Homo sapiens: one gene and its partners. The protein of the gene in region 1 interacts with the protein of each later gene in a pairwise test. Each region holds a gene or a part of one and is shown on either strand. Other genes may lie near its edges.

Evidence for each region. Proteins that work in one complex are often made in the same cells at the same time.
Region 2: the proteins of TSGA10 (region 1) and HDAC4 interact in binary tests that used the Homo sapiens proteins (3 or more experiments, as listed by UniProt).
Region 3: the proteins of TSGA10 (region 1) and ZNF2 interact in binary tests that used the Homo sapiens proteins (3 or more experiments, as listed by UniProt).
Region 4: the proteins of TSGA10 (region 1) and FBF1 interact in binary tests that used the Homo sapiens proteins (3 or more experiments, as listed by UniProt).

What each region holds. Positions count from the first base shown.
Region 1 is NC_000002.12:99,071,415-99,074,981, forward strand, and holds part of TSGA10 (testis-specific gene 10 protein), read right to left. Parts: intron 1,660-3,567; coding exon 1,604-1,659; intron 461-1,603; coding exon 292-460; intron 1-291. UniProt on the Homo sapiens protein: Plays a role in spermatogenesis. When overexpressed, prevents nuclear localization of HIF1A.
Region 2 is NC_000002.12:239,051,512-239,055,078, reverse strand, and holds part of HDAC4 (histone deacetylase 4), read left to right. Parts: intron 1-245; coding exon 246-330; intron 331-1,477; coding exon 1,478-1,619; intron 1,620-1,942; coding exon 1,943-1,982; 3' UTR 1,983-3,567. UniProt on the Homo sapiens protein: Responsible for the deacetylation of lysine residues on the N-terminal part of the core histones (H2A, H2B, H3 and H4).
Region 3 is NC_000002.12:95,172,251-95,175,817, reverse strand, and holds part of ZNF2 (zinc finger protein 2), read right to left. Parts: intron 1-3,567. UniProt on the Homo sapiens protein: May be involved in transcriptional regulation.
Region 4 is NC_000017.11:75,934,534-75,938,100, reverse strand, and holds part of FBF1 (fas-binding factor 1), read left to right. Parts: intron 1-507; coding exon 508-535; intron 536-2,427; coding exon 2,428-2,469; intron 2,470-3,567. UniProt on the Homo sapiens protein: Keratin-binding protein required for epithelial cell polarization. Involved in apical junction complex (AJC) assembly via its interaction with PARD3. Required for ciliogenesis.

The DNA.
Region 1 (3,567 bases):
TTTCTCAAGGTTTTTATTCTCATTTTTTGATTATTCAAATATTTATCCTTCAGCAAGGAAGTACTAAGCTTTAATACAAATATAGCCCTGTTCTCTCTTTTCTTTAATATTTAACCCTTTGTGTCTGAGAATTCCATTTAAAAATTATGTGGCCTATTTTGTTATTTTTTAAAAAAAAGAAAAGGCTAGTTCCAGTGTCTGAGCTCTTCTATAAAATAAAATGAGGGCTGTTCCTCACAAGAAATTCATATTTTTTTTTCTTGGAGAAAATGATTCTAGGAACAAGTGTACCTGGTTTTCTTGTTTAGCTTTAGCAAACTGTTCCTGGAGATTGTCATTGTCATGAGCCAAGATATCTCTTTCCCTGGCGATCTGGGCCAGCTCATCATTTGTCTCATCCAATTGCCGACGCATTCTGGAAACGTCTTGTTCACACACAATTAGGGCCTCAGTACACTGTCTATTCCACAAATCAAAGAGTACATAAGAAGAGACATTTTACTGAAACAGAGCAACAAATTCTCACAAGACAGAAGATGGACAGTTAGTATGAAAACATTTGAAGAGATTTTAAACACGTTTGAATTTATAGGAATAAATACTGCAAAGACAGTGCATTAGAGTTTCTCAATGTTGCCATCATTTCGCTATGAAAAGGATACAAAGTATACATAATAGTCAATGATTTGCCAAATATTTCAAAACTTCTTACATCAAGTATTAGGAAGGCTTTCATCCTACTTCTGTTATGGCTTAGTCTCCTTTACAGATTCCTCTTCCTCTGCCCACTTAAAAATTAATGCTTTTCAGGGCTCAAGCCCTAGCCTCCCAATTATTCTCACTCTAACCCTTCTCTCAGACAAACTCTATTCATATCCATGGTTCCCAACCCCATCTAGATCCAATGACTCCAAAATAATTATCTCCAGTTTTAGACCCTCTGTTATACTCCAGACTTATATTTAACTGCTTACTAGACATGTCTACAATAAGGTCCCAAAGGTTCTTCAAATTCAGAGGTAAAATCATTTTTTCTCCTCATACTTTCTTCATGTTCAGTATTTGTCCCTGGCCAGAAACTTGGCATTTTCCTGGTGTCTCTCCCTCATACAAAAGCATTTCACTCCTTCTGTCCCACAACTCCTAAACCCCAATTTATCACCACCTCTTCTGCTTAGGTATCTTTCTAACACAAAATTCTCCTCAGAATTCTTTAATGATTTCTTATTGCCCAAAGGATATAACCAATACTCATTTGTCTGTTACACAAGCCTCTGCCTGCCTATTTAGTCTCCTCCCTTCACTTCTCCCCTTACACTCTAGGTTTCAACAACACTCACCCACTTGTAGGTCAAGAGGCTTGTCAACATGATCTGTGGTTCTTTGCTATTCTTTCTACTTTAAATGCCCTTCCCTTCCCCTTATTTTACTTGGCAAACACCATCCCCTCTTTTAGTTCCTTAGACAGACTTAGGCCTCCTTTGATGAGAGAGTTAGCACCTTACACGTATCATTAAGCCCCTTGTTTCTTACTATCTTTGTACCTAACATGGTACTTGGCCCCCCAGTAAGAGCTCATATATTTGTTGCACGACTGATTTACCTTGATGCCTGTTCCATCTCAGCAATGATATTCTTCATGCCTGAAATGGTCTTTTCCTTGAAAAATAATATAAGTATTAAATAAAAAAATCTTAAGCTGTTATTTCTGTTAAAATTGAATGAACAAAAAGAAAATTTCCCTTTCCCTTTAGGTTTCCATTTGGTTTTAAAAACATGTATGTCCTATTCTTTTCCACACTTTAAAGCCTAGTATATCAATGTGAATATTTGCACTGGGTAAAAATAGATTATGTTCATTAAAGTAAAGGCTATACTTAGGTGTAATTATGAGATCAGTATATCAAATTCTTTGTCAAAAGATATTTTATGCAGTCACCCAGCAATACAAGAACCCTATAACCACCTGTTTTTGGAGGCAAACCAATGGTTTGGCATTGGAGTATTGGCATTTTATACTGGGATTTAGAACTGGTTCTCTTGCTCACATTCTTTATGTTATAAAACCCAGAGAAGCCAATCATGTATACCTAAATTTAGTTTTTAAGAATAATTTTGATTAAGTGTATTATTTATATTAGCCAGCAACAAAATCTTCAAAAAGCTGTTCCAATCCAATTACTTATAGAAGTATACTACTGATATTTAGGTGAGAGCTAATAAGAAGGTAAGCATTAGGCCTCGAGCAAAGGTAAGAGAAATAAACTATATTTTCCTTTTTCAAAGGCGTGATGAGGGAGTAGAAGTAGTGGAGTCAGTCAAGGCAGAAATGGGTTTGAATATCTTAATGCCTTTAATACCATTCCCACACCTCTTTTTAAAACTTCCATTGACCCTGAACTAGTCCAACTATAAACAGATACTTAGAGCTAACATTAGCCCTAAAAAAGTAAGAAAGTTATTTCACTAAGTAATAACTAGATTTCACCTTGCCATTTGAATTTTCAAATTTTAAGTAACTAAGTAAAAAGATTTTTAAAAACCCAAACCTATATTTTCCAACCAATTCTGTTCCTGTTTCTTTTCTTTTTTTTTTTTTTTTTTTTTTTTTTTTTGAGATGGAGTTTTGCTCTTGATGCCCCGGCTGGAGTGCGAGGGCGCGATCTCGGCTCACTGCAACCTCCGCCTCCCAGGTTCAAGCGATTCTCCTGCCTCAGCCTCCCAAGTAGCTGGGACTACAGGCATGCGCCACCATGCCCAGCTAATTTTTTGTATACTTAGTAGAGACGGGGTTTCACTATGTTGGCCAGGCTGGTCTCAAACTCCTGACTTCAAGTGATCCACCCACCTCGGCCTCCCAAAGTGCTGGGATTACAGGCGTAAGCCACTGCGCCCGGCCGTTCCTATTTCTTTAGCGTTAGTTTTACACATATTTGCGTGTGTGTGTGTGTGTGTGTGTGTGCTATCTTCCTTTATTCATGTGCTCTTCTCCAGGGTATTTTTAGCTACAGTTTCCCATTCTGCTTTCTCATGGAATGGTACAGATTCCACATCTGGCAGTAATAGATACTGGTGTGTTGTTAAAATATGCATTAAAAAAAAAGTTAAACCCCTTCAAGAAGGACAAGCCAACGAAGGAAAAACTAAAAGACAAAATACTCCATAAAATGGAATGTTTACACATTTTTGAAATATAATTTAATACATTTCTAAACAAATTCTGAAAAGCTAGTTGAACTAGTGCTTTTGAAAGTCTTTACTTGAGGCCGAATGCGGTGGCTTATGCCTGTAATCCCAGCACTTTGAGAGGGTGAGGCAGGCGGAACACGAGGTCAGGAGTTTGAGACCAGCCTGACCAACATGGTGAAACCCCATCTCTACTGAAAATACAAAAATTAGCCGGGTGCAGTGGTGGGCGCCTATAATCCCAGCTACTCAGGAGACTGAGGCAGGGAATCACTTGAACTCGGGTGGCGAGGGTTGCAGTGGGCTGAGATTGTGTCACTGCACTCCAACCTGGGTGACAGAGACTCCGTCTCAAAAAAAAAAAAAAGTCCTTTCTTGATT
Region 2 (3,567 bases), about 140 Mb from region 1:
TCTTCCTGCTACTTGTAGGAACCCACAAATATCTTATAGCGTCCTAAAAAAAAATCCACTTTTACAAAAAAATTATAAATACCACGGCACATTTGGCTTTTTAAAGTTATTTTTTTCTACTCTGTGGGCAAATGCACCCCACAAGGGTCTCTGTGCTCAGGAAACAGTTGCAGTCTCGGAACACCCGTCTAACGCACGTGTGGATTATATTGGCAGTCTTTATATTCTTATGCATTTTCTTCCAGCTTGATCCTCTCCCAGAAAAGGTTTTACAGCAAAGACCCAATGCAAACGCTGTCCGTTCCATGGAGAAAGTCATGGAGATCCACAGTAAGTTGCCTGGCTGGGTGCTCACAGGGGACACGCCCCTGGGGGTGGGACTGCACCACACCCCATCCCTGTCCCCCTATACCCCCAGCTCTTCTCCATCCCACTGCCGGCTGCTTCCCCAGGCCTGCAGCAGAAGGCCTTGCTTTCAGCTGCATTTCTTGAGCTGGTAGAGACTCACATTTAACCCCGACTGGATTTCCCCCGGCCTGCTGGGATGGTTCCATCAGCCCAATTTGTAAGTCTAGAGAATCAAGGCCCAGACAGTCTCAGTGTGGAGTCACTTGCTCTAGGTCCCCAGCTAGCAGCGGGGGCCATGGCTGTGAGCCTGTACCCTGGGGACTCCGGCCTCTTCCCTGGACCAGAGAAGCCCACGTCCTGACCTCAAAGAACCCTTGGCCCTGCAGAGAGGCAGGGTGTAGGCCCTCTGAGTTCTGGCACCGACCCTCAAGCAGCAGGTCCTGGGTGCAAGGGCGTGGCACGCAGCCTATCTCAGAGGCGCCTCCCACACCCTGTCATTGTCGCAAGCCCAGCTTGTCTTGCCTTTGAGATGACCCAGATGGTTGAGACTGTCCACAGAAGCAGGGGTAGTCCAGAGCTCAGCTCCCCGTTTCCCTGTGTGAGGGAGTCCTGGCTTCAGAGCCCTGAAGCTGACCCTGGGCCAGGCCCAGCCCTCCACATACACCCCCTTGCGCCTGACGCAGTACCCCTCCACCCCCAGCCTCTGTGAGGGCCCAGGCAGAAGACCCCTCAGCCCCAGCGACAATCCCCCAGCTCACCTGCTCCCAGAGATAGGAAGGCTCAACCCAGCAGGCTGGCAGCCCCCTGCCCTGGCCACCCAGGGCAGAAAGGGGCCCGTGAGCGTGGAAAGCCAGGCCTACAGGAGCCTCCCTCTGCAGTCCTAGGTGGGCCTGCTCCTGGAGGGACTCGAGCCACTCACAATGGGGAAACATTTCCAGAGATTTTTTGGGTCTTTGTGAGTTTGTAGCCATGCAGTCTTCTGCTTCGTGTCTCTTCAAAGACGGGTGCTTTTAAAATCATAAGGGATCAATCTGGTTTGAGGCTCAGGGTCCCGCAGGACCTTCCCGGGCCTCAGTGCATCCTGCTAAGTTGTAGTCACTGAGCGACTTTCCTCACCCCACCACCCCAGGCAAGTACTGGCGCTGCCTGCAGCGCACAACCTCCACAGCGGGGCGTTCTCTGATCGAGGCTCAGACTTGCGAGAACGAAGAAGCCGAGACGGTCACCGCCATGGCCTCGCTGTCCGTGGGCGTGAAGCCCGCCGAAAAGAGGTGAGCACCTGCCCTGCCGCCCGCCTGCAGGCTCACCCAGCCCCACTGTGCCCACTGACACACTATTCAGGGTCAGAACCTTTATGGCACATGCCCTGCCCAACAGACTAGAGACAGGCCAGTGTGGCCCCCTCCTTCCAGTGCCAAAGCCCCTTAGAGACGCATGAGGAGCATTAGATCCTGAACAGATGGACCCGGGGCTGCCAGGCCAGGGCTAGGCTGGCGGGTGGGGCAGCACACAGCCTTTAACCCACGTTCTGTTCTCTCCTCTCTGTGGTGCACCTGCCCCACGCCCCCATCTCCTTCTCTTGCGGGATCCACAGACCAGATGAGGAGCCCATGGAAGAGGAGCCGCCCCTGTAGCACTCCCTCGAAGCTGCTGTTCTCTTGTCTGTCTGTCTCTGTCTTGAAGCTCAGCCAAGAAACTTTCCCGTGTCACGCCTGCGTCCCACCGTGGGGCTCTCTTGGAGCACCCAGGGACACCCAGCGTGCAACAGCCACGGGAAGCCTTTCTGCCGCCCAGGCCCACAGGTCTCGAGACGCACATGCACGCCTGGGCGTGGCAGCCTCACAGGGAACACGGGACAGACGCCGGCGACGCGCAGACACACGGACACGCGGAAGCCAAGCACACTCTGGCGGGTCCCGCAAGGGACGCCGTGGAAGAAAGGAGCCTGTGGCAACAGGCGGCCGAGCTGCCGAATTCAGTTGACACGAGGCACAGAAAACAAATATCAAAGATCTAATAATACAAAACAAACTTGATTAAAACTGGTGCTTAAAGTTTATTACCCACAACTCCACAGTCTCTGTGTAAACCACTCGACTCATCTTGTAGCTTATTTTTTTTTAAAGAGGACGTTTTCTACGGCTGTGGCCCGCCTCTGTGAACCATAGCGGTGTGCGGCGGGGGGTCTGCACCCGGGTGGGGGACAGAGGGACCTTTAAAGAAAACAAAACTGGACAGAAACAGGAATGTGAGCTGGGGGAGCTGGCTTGAGTTTCTCAAAAGCCATCGGAAGATGCGAGTTTGTGCCTTTTTTTTTATTGCTCTGGTGGATTTTTGTGGCTGGGTTTTCTGAAGTCTGAGGAACAATGCCTTAAGAAAAAACAAACAGCAGGAATCGGTGGGACAGTTTCCTGTGGCCAGCCGAGCCTGGCAGTGCTGGCACCGCGAGCTGGCCTGACGCCTCAAGCACGGGCACCAGCCGTCATCTCCGGGGCCAGGGGCTGCAGCCCGGCGGTCCCTGTTTTGCTTTATTGCTGTTTAAGAAAAATGGAGGTAGTTCCAAAAAAGTGGCAAATCCCGTTGGAGGTTTTGAAGTCCAACAAATTTTAAACGAATCCAAAGTGTTCTCACACGTCACATACGATTGAGCATCTCCATCTGGTCGTGAAGCATGTGGTAGGCACACTTGCAGTGTTACGATCGGAATGCTTTTTATTAAAAGCAAGTAGCATGAAGTATTGCTTAAATTTTAGGTATAAATAAATATATATATGTATAATATATATTCCAATGTATTCCAAGCTAAGAAACTTACTTGATTCTTATGAAATCTTGATAAAATATTTATAATGCATTTATAGAAAAAGTATATATATATATATAAAATGAATGCAGATTGCGAAGGTCCCTGCAAATGGATGGCTTGTGAATTTGCTCTCAAGGTGCTTATGGAAAGGGATCCTGATTGATTGAAATTCATGTTTTCTCAAGCTCCAGATTGGCTAGATTTCAGATCGCCAACACATTCGCCACTGGGCAACTACCCTACAAGTTTGTACTTTCATTTTAATTATTTTCTAACAGAACCGCTCCCGTCTCCAAGCCTTCATGCACATATGTACCTAATGAGTTTTTATAGCAAAGAATATAAATTTGCTGTTGATTTTTGTATGAATTTTTTCACAAAAAGATCCTGAATAAGCATTGTTTTATGAATTT
Region 3 (3,567 bases), 3.9 Mb from region 1:
GACATATCAAAGACAATCCAGTCTCTTCAAAGGAAAAATACCCCACTCATAGCCCTTGCTAAAGGAGCATCCCTTGGGCAGCCAGGTTTTGTACCATGTGACCCTGTGTCTTATTCCCGGAGCCACACTGATTAGGCCACAGGTGGGTAATGCACACATGACTAGTAGATTGAGATGTGATCTGGCTTGAAAAGATGACATCCTTCCTTGGGAATGTGAACTAAGAAATGTCAGGACAAGTGGGTGACGAGCTGAAAGGATATCATGAAAGGACGTCCTGAAGCAGCCACAAGGATCGGGGAACCAAAGTTACCAGCAGCAGAACCCATGGGCACATGGGAGGTACAAGGTAGAGAAAAGGTCATAATAGACCACGGGACCAGAGGCAGGCAGGGGGAAGCCCAGCGCAGTCCCATCAGCGGTGAAACACTGACGCAAAGACCTAAGAATTCCTGGGGAAGCCCTCACCTCGCCTAGCACCACCCATGGGCTCCAATTTCCATGCAAACCATCCTTATTTATTCATAGATTGCCATAATACTCTAACTCTCTTGGGCTCTGTGCAAGATCTTATCACTAATTCCCTTTACTGGGATTAGCTAAGTCTCAGTTTTTCACAATCAAGAGTCTAATTAAAACAACAGACCAGGCACGGTGGCACATGTCTGTAATCCCAGCACTTTGGGAAGCCGAGGTGGAAGGATCACTTGAGGCCAGGAGTTCTCAAGACCAGCCTGGGCAACATAGCAAGACCTCTGTCTCTATAAAAATAAAAAAATATAAAAATAAAACAAGAGCATTAAATCCCACATTTCTGGGATTTATGGTGGCTGGGAGATGGTGTGGTCCTGGTGAGGAGGAGGAAAAGGCATATTTGCGGTGCACTGACCATTCTCCAACAGTCAAGGGGATATGGTCACTGCTTCTTGTGACTCATTCATTCATCCTTCTATTCAACCAGCATTTATTCAGCACCAACTACTTACATCAAGCACAGAAAAACTGTCAGACACTGTCTTTGTCCTCCAGAAGCTATAGCTTAGCACAGAGAACAAACAAGTAAATGAGATAATATTTCACTCCAGGATGCATTAAGAGCAGCAAAGCGATATGCACAGCAATCCATGAGAGCACCTCAGAGGCTCACCTAACCCAGCAGGGAGGGATGGAAGGAGGAACTCTGCAGCTTTCTTGACAGGAGTGGGATCTAAGCTAAGTTTTCATTTGTGGGAGGAGCTAGAACATTCTAAATCTTGAGAAAAAAACCTCAAGTTTTTCAAAAAGAAGGAGGCAGGTCTTTACATGGAAAGGATTAACAACAAAAATTAGCTTAGAATGGTAGAAGTCTAGGCTGTGAGCAGTGCTGTGGGGAAGATGAGGGAAAAGAGGTAGGCAGAGGCCAGTTTCATCGAGGAGAGCTTTGCATGGCCCTTTCTCCACAGGCATGGAGATTACTGAAGGATTTGGGTGTGGACATGTCATCACATCCGTGCTTTAAAAAATCACTGTGACTTATAGCAAGGGCCTTGAAACATACTGTTTGACCCAGCAATTCTCTCCTAGGAATTTATACTAGGAAATAAGTAATGATATATGATATATACACAGCTTTTTATGACTCATCATTAACACTAACCCTTATTGACAGCTATGTTCCAGGGCACTTCCTAAGCACTTTATATGTATTATCTCATTTAATCTTTTCAATAAGGCAGCAAAAATTTGAAATACCTTAAACATCTGGAGACTTGGTTAAATAATTTATGGCCCAGTCCATACATATAATGGAACACTATTAAACATCATCTTGGCCTGGCACGGTGGCTCACGCCTGTAATCCCAGCACTTTGGGAGGCCAAGACATGCGGATCATGAGGTCAAGAGATGGAGACCATCCTGGCCAAAATGGTGAAACCCAGTCTCTACTAACAATACAAAAAAATTAGCTGGGCGTGGTGGCGTGTGCCTTTAGTCCCAGCTACTTGGGAGGCTGAGGCAGGAGAATTGGTTGACCCTGGGAGGCGGAGGTTGCAGTGAGCCAAGATCGTGCCACTGCACTCCAGCCTGGCGACAGAGCAAGACTCCATCTCAAACAAACCAAACCAAAACAAAAAAACCCATCATCTTAATAACAACTAGCATTATTGAGTATTTTCTATTTGCCAGGTACTGTGCTAAGTGCTTTTTATAAGGCTAATTTAACTCCATCCTCATAAATCAATAAGGTAGGCACTATTTTACAGATTAGGAAATTAAGGCTTTGTAAGAATCTGAGGTAGAACTTGAAACCATGTCTGCCTGGGAGGTTTTAACTTTCATGCTACCATGATTTATTTTCATGAAAAGATAGCCACATCAATTACAGACCAATAGACTAGAACAGAAAATCCCAAAACATATCCAAACATTAGGGAAGCCTGATGTATGACTGAGGTGGCATTACAAGTCACTGGGGAGAAGATCACTAGTGATAAACTGCAAACAACTTCAATGTCCATTAATCAGATAAAGGATTTGTGAATATATATACATTATCTCATATATGAATATTATATATGAATATGTGTATTATACATTATATATGAATATTATACATTATCTCATGTTAACAGAGATAAATTACAAAAACATAATTACTGGGCAAAAAATAAGTTATAGAATGACTTACTGTATAATATTTACATAAAATTTAAAAACAGGTAAATAATACCTACAAAAATCTATTAACACATGGGACAATAAGCAGCAAATGTGTACATATCTGAGAAGAAAGGGAAATAAGACTGGGGAAGGATACCCAGGATACTTCAGCTTTATCTGTAATGCTTTGTTTCTTACAAAAAAAAAAAAAATCAACAACTGAAAAAAAACCACAAAGAACGGCCAGGTGCAGTGGCTCACACCTGTAATCCCAGCACTTTGGGAGACCGAGGCGTGTGGATCACTTGAGGTTAGGAGTTCAAGACCAGCTTGGCCAACATGGTGAAATCCCGTCTCTACTAAAAATACAAAAATTAGCCAGGCATGATGGCACGTGGCTGTAGTGCCAGCTACCCTGGAGGCTGAGGCAGGAGAATTGCTTGAACCCAGAAGGCAGAGGTTGCAGTGAGCTGAGCTCACGCCACTGCACTCCAGCCTGGGTGACAGAGTGAGACTCCATCTAAAAAAAAAAAAAAAAACCACAAAGAAATTCAAAACACTTGAAGAATGCACACTTTTAAAATTACATATTTGTACATGCACATTATGTATAGAAAAAGGAAAAACACATAATAAAATGTAAATGAAATTTGAGTGGTGAGTTATAAGTTATTTTTATTTTCTTACCATTCTTCATATATTTTTTTCAACAAGAGTAAGTCCTTATTTTGGTGTACAGAAAAAAATAACAGGAAGGAAAGAAGGGTGGTGTGCAGAAAAGTCACAGCAGACCTGAGACTGCTATTCCTAGAAAGTTCTGCTTGCATGCTGGCCCTTCGCTGGCAGCTGGAAACTTCGATTTTGAGAGGGTTCCCCAGTTCCCTAAGAGATAACGGTGGTCTACTATGCCTAAACTATTTGTGCAAA
Region 4 (3,567 bases), on another chromosome or scaffold:
CATCCTGCATCCCCAAAGATCTTGACTGCATGCAACACTCTGGGGGCTGGGCGGCAAGGACCAGGATGGAGACCCTGGAGAAGAGTGACAGGAGGTGGCATTGATACCAAACTTTCGACGACCAAGGTTTCTTCTGAGACTCTGAGTGTCCAGCTGGAAGCGTTTTTAAGTGTCTGTCACTGGTATTGAGGAGTCAGGGGCACGGAATAGAAGACATTTCCGGTCACATGACATCTCGGCTGGGAGGGTTTGCATGTCGTGTCTGGGAAAGGAGTGACCTGCCCGCCCATTGGCACCCATCGCTGGTTAGCAGGGCTGTTTCCACGCTCTGAATGAGTCCGTTCTCAGAAACTATAGGAACACATAAAGGACTTACATCTCTAAATGCCATTGGTGCTCTTGCCTCTGGTTACTTGGCAAAAGGCAACGCAATTCATTCTGCATTGCCAATTTCCACCTGTGTTCACTGTTTGGTTTTCTTGATGTGATTTGTTTTTCCCATTTTAGGCACCAAAAACCAAGAAAGGATGTAAAGGTGAGTGGAGAGATGGAACATTACTCTTAAGCCAAATATATATCTTTTTCCCCTTTGGTCCTGGAACAATGAGATGTGTTTATTTAAATGTTTTTGGGCCGGGCACGGTGGCTCACACCTGTAATCCCAGCGCTTTGGGAGGCCGAGGTGGGTGGATCATGAGGTCAGGAGATCGAGACCATCCTGGCTAACACGATGAAACCCCGTCTCTGCTAAAAATACAAAAAATTAGCCGGGCGTGGTGGCGGGTGCCTGTAGTCCCAGCTACTCGGGAGGCTGAGGCAGGAGAATGGTGTGAACACAGGAGGCGGAGCTTGCAGTGAGCCGAGATCTCACCACTGCACTCCAGCCTGGGCAACAGAGTGAGACTCCGTCTCAAAAAAAAAAAAAATGTTTTTGATCAGTCTTGCTGTTCTTCCCATTATTCCGTAGGCAGCCTTGGTCTTCCTTATGTTGCCTCACTGGTCCTCAGAGAAGTTCAGACGTAAATAAGATATGAGGTTTTGGAAAAAATCCTCCTCCTTGGGCTCTGTATCCAGAAATATGTGGTTGGGATTCAGGGTGGGAAAGCTGGTGTGGGGAAACGAATTCGATATTCATACTTAGGTTCCCCCACATGCCTCCATCAGAAAGTGGCCATTGATGAGGACATCCAGACCAGTTCTGGGGGGTCTTAGATGGAAGGGTACAAGGAGCCTACTTGTCTGAAAGTAGCCTCCATGTGCCTAGAAATCTTGGGCACTCTTCCCAGCGAGCTGCACTGGGCTGTGTTCAGGGTCTGGAAGACTGATCTTTGGCCAGTGTGTCATGGTAGGCAGGTAGAATATAGGTTCTGCTGAAAATCTGCACCATCATCCTTTCAGATAGTTGTGTTTTTTTGTTTTTTTTTTTAAGACGGAGTCTTGCTCTGTTGCCCGGGGTAGAGTGCAATGGCGTGATCTCAGGTCACTGCAACCTCTGCCTCCCAGTTTCAAGCAATTCTTCTGCCTCAGCCTCCCCAGTAATTGGGATTACAGGCATGTGTCACCATGCCCGGCTAATTTTTGTTTTGGTTTTGTTTGTTTGTTTGTTTTTGAGACGGCGTCTTGCTCTGTCACCCAGGCTGGAATGCAGTGGCGCGATCTCGGCTCACTGCAACCTCTGCCTCCCAGGTTCAAGCAATTCTCCTGCCTCATCCTCTCCAGTAGCTGGGATTACAAGCATGCGCCACCAGGCCCAGCTAATTTTGGGGGGGGTCTTTTTGTTGTTTTTTGAGACGGCGTATCGCTCTGTCGCCCAGGCTGGAGTGCAGTGGTGCGATCTCGGCTCACTACAAACTCTGCCACCCGGGTTCAAGTGATTCTTCTGCCTCAGCCTCCCGAGTACCTGGGACTACAGGCACATGCCACCACACCTGGCTAATTTTTTGTATTTTTAGTAGAGACAGGGTTTCACTGTGTTAGCCAGGCTGGTCTCGAACTCCTGACTTCAGGTGATCCACCCGCCTTGGCCTCCCAAAGTGCTGGGATTGCAGGTGTGAGCCACCGCGCCCAGCCATTTTTTTTGTATTTTTAGTAAAGACAGGGTTTTGCCATGTTGGTCAGGCTGGTCTCGAACTCCTGACTTCAGGTGATCCACCCGCCTCGGCCTCCCAAAGTGCTGGGATTGCAGGTGTGAGCCACTGCGCCCAGCCTGAGATAGTTATTTAAATTTCTGCCTCGGGGTATTTCAACAAGGCTTTGTGACTTGTTGCCAGAAACTTGTAAAACATCTCGTGGCCAATGAAAGGAGAGCTAAGCCTAAGTCCCAACATCTGAAAGGTCTGACGCCTTCTGGCGAGTCTCAAGCCTTGATGTTTATAAGGGCCACTCTTCTTTCCTCCTGAAGTCATGACAGTCCCTTTTCTGTTCCAGGCTCCATTGATGATTTTCTTGGTGACCTTCTAGGGGATGATAGTAAGTGTGCCTTGCCCAGAATCCCCTAATTTGGGCTGCTGCTGTTGCTTTTTTTTCTTACTATGTTGCCCAGGCTGGTCCCAAGCTTCTGGACTGAAATGATCCTCCCGCCTCCTAAACCAAAGTGCTGGGATTACAGGCATAAGCCACTACACCCGGCCTTTTTTAAAAATTGAGATATATGCGCCTGTAATCCCAGCACTCTGGGAGGAGGAGGAGGGCCAATCACAAGGTCAGGAGTTCAAGACCAGCCTGACCAACATGGCGAAACCCCATCTCTACTAAAAATACAAAAAAAAATTAGCTGGGCATAGTGGCGGGCGCCTGTAATCCCACCTACTTGGAAAGCTGAGGCAGGAGAATCACTTGAACCCAGGAGGCGGAGGTTGCAGTGAGCCAACGTTGCACCACTGCGCTCCAGCCTGTGCGACAGAGCGAGACTCCGTCTCAAAAAAAAAAAAAAAATGAGATGTAATTTATATAGCATAAAGTCCACTCCTGTAAAGTGTACAACTCAGTGGTTTTTGAATATTCAAAAGTTGTACAACCATCAACATTACCTAATTCCGGAACATTTTCCATCACCCCTTAAAGAAACCCCATGCCCATTAGTAGTCAATTTCATTCTCTCCTCCCTCCAACCTTAGGCAAGCACTTATTATTTACTCTCTGTCTCTATGGATTTGCCTATTGTGGACACTTTACATAAAATGGAATCACACAGCATCTTACCTTTTTTTTTTTTTTTTTTTGAGACAGAGTTTCACTCTTGTTGCCCAGGCTGGAGTGCAATGGCGCAATCTCGGCTCACCGCAACCTCCACCTCCCAGGTTCAAGCAATTCTCCTGCCTCAGCCTCCTGAGTAGCTGGGATTACAGGCGCTCGCCACCACGCCCAGCTAATTTTGTATTTTTAGTAGAGATGGGGGTTTCTCCACGTTGGTCAGTCTGGTCTCGAACTCCCAACCTCAGGTGATCCACCCATCTTGGCCTCCCAAAGTGCTGGGATTACAGGTATTGAGCCACCGCGCCCGGCCAGCATCTTACCTTTACATCTAGCTTTTTTTTTTTTTTTTTGAGACAGAGTCTCACTGTGTCA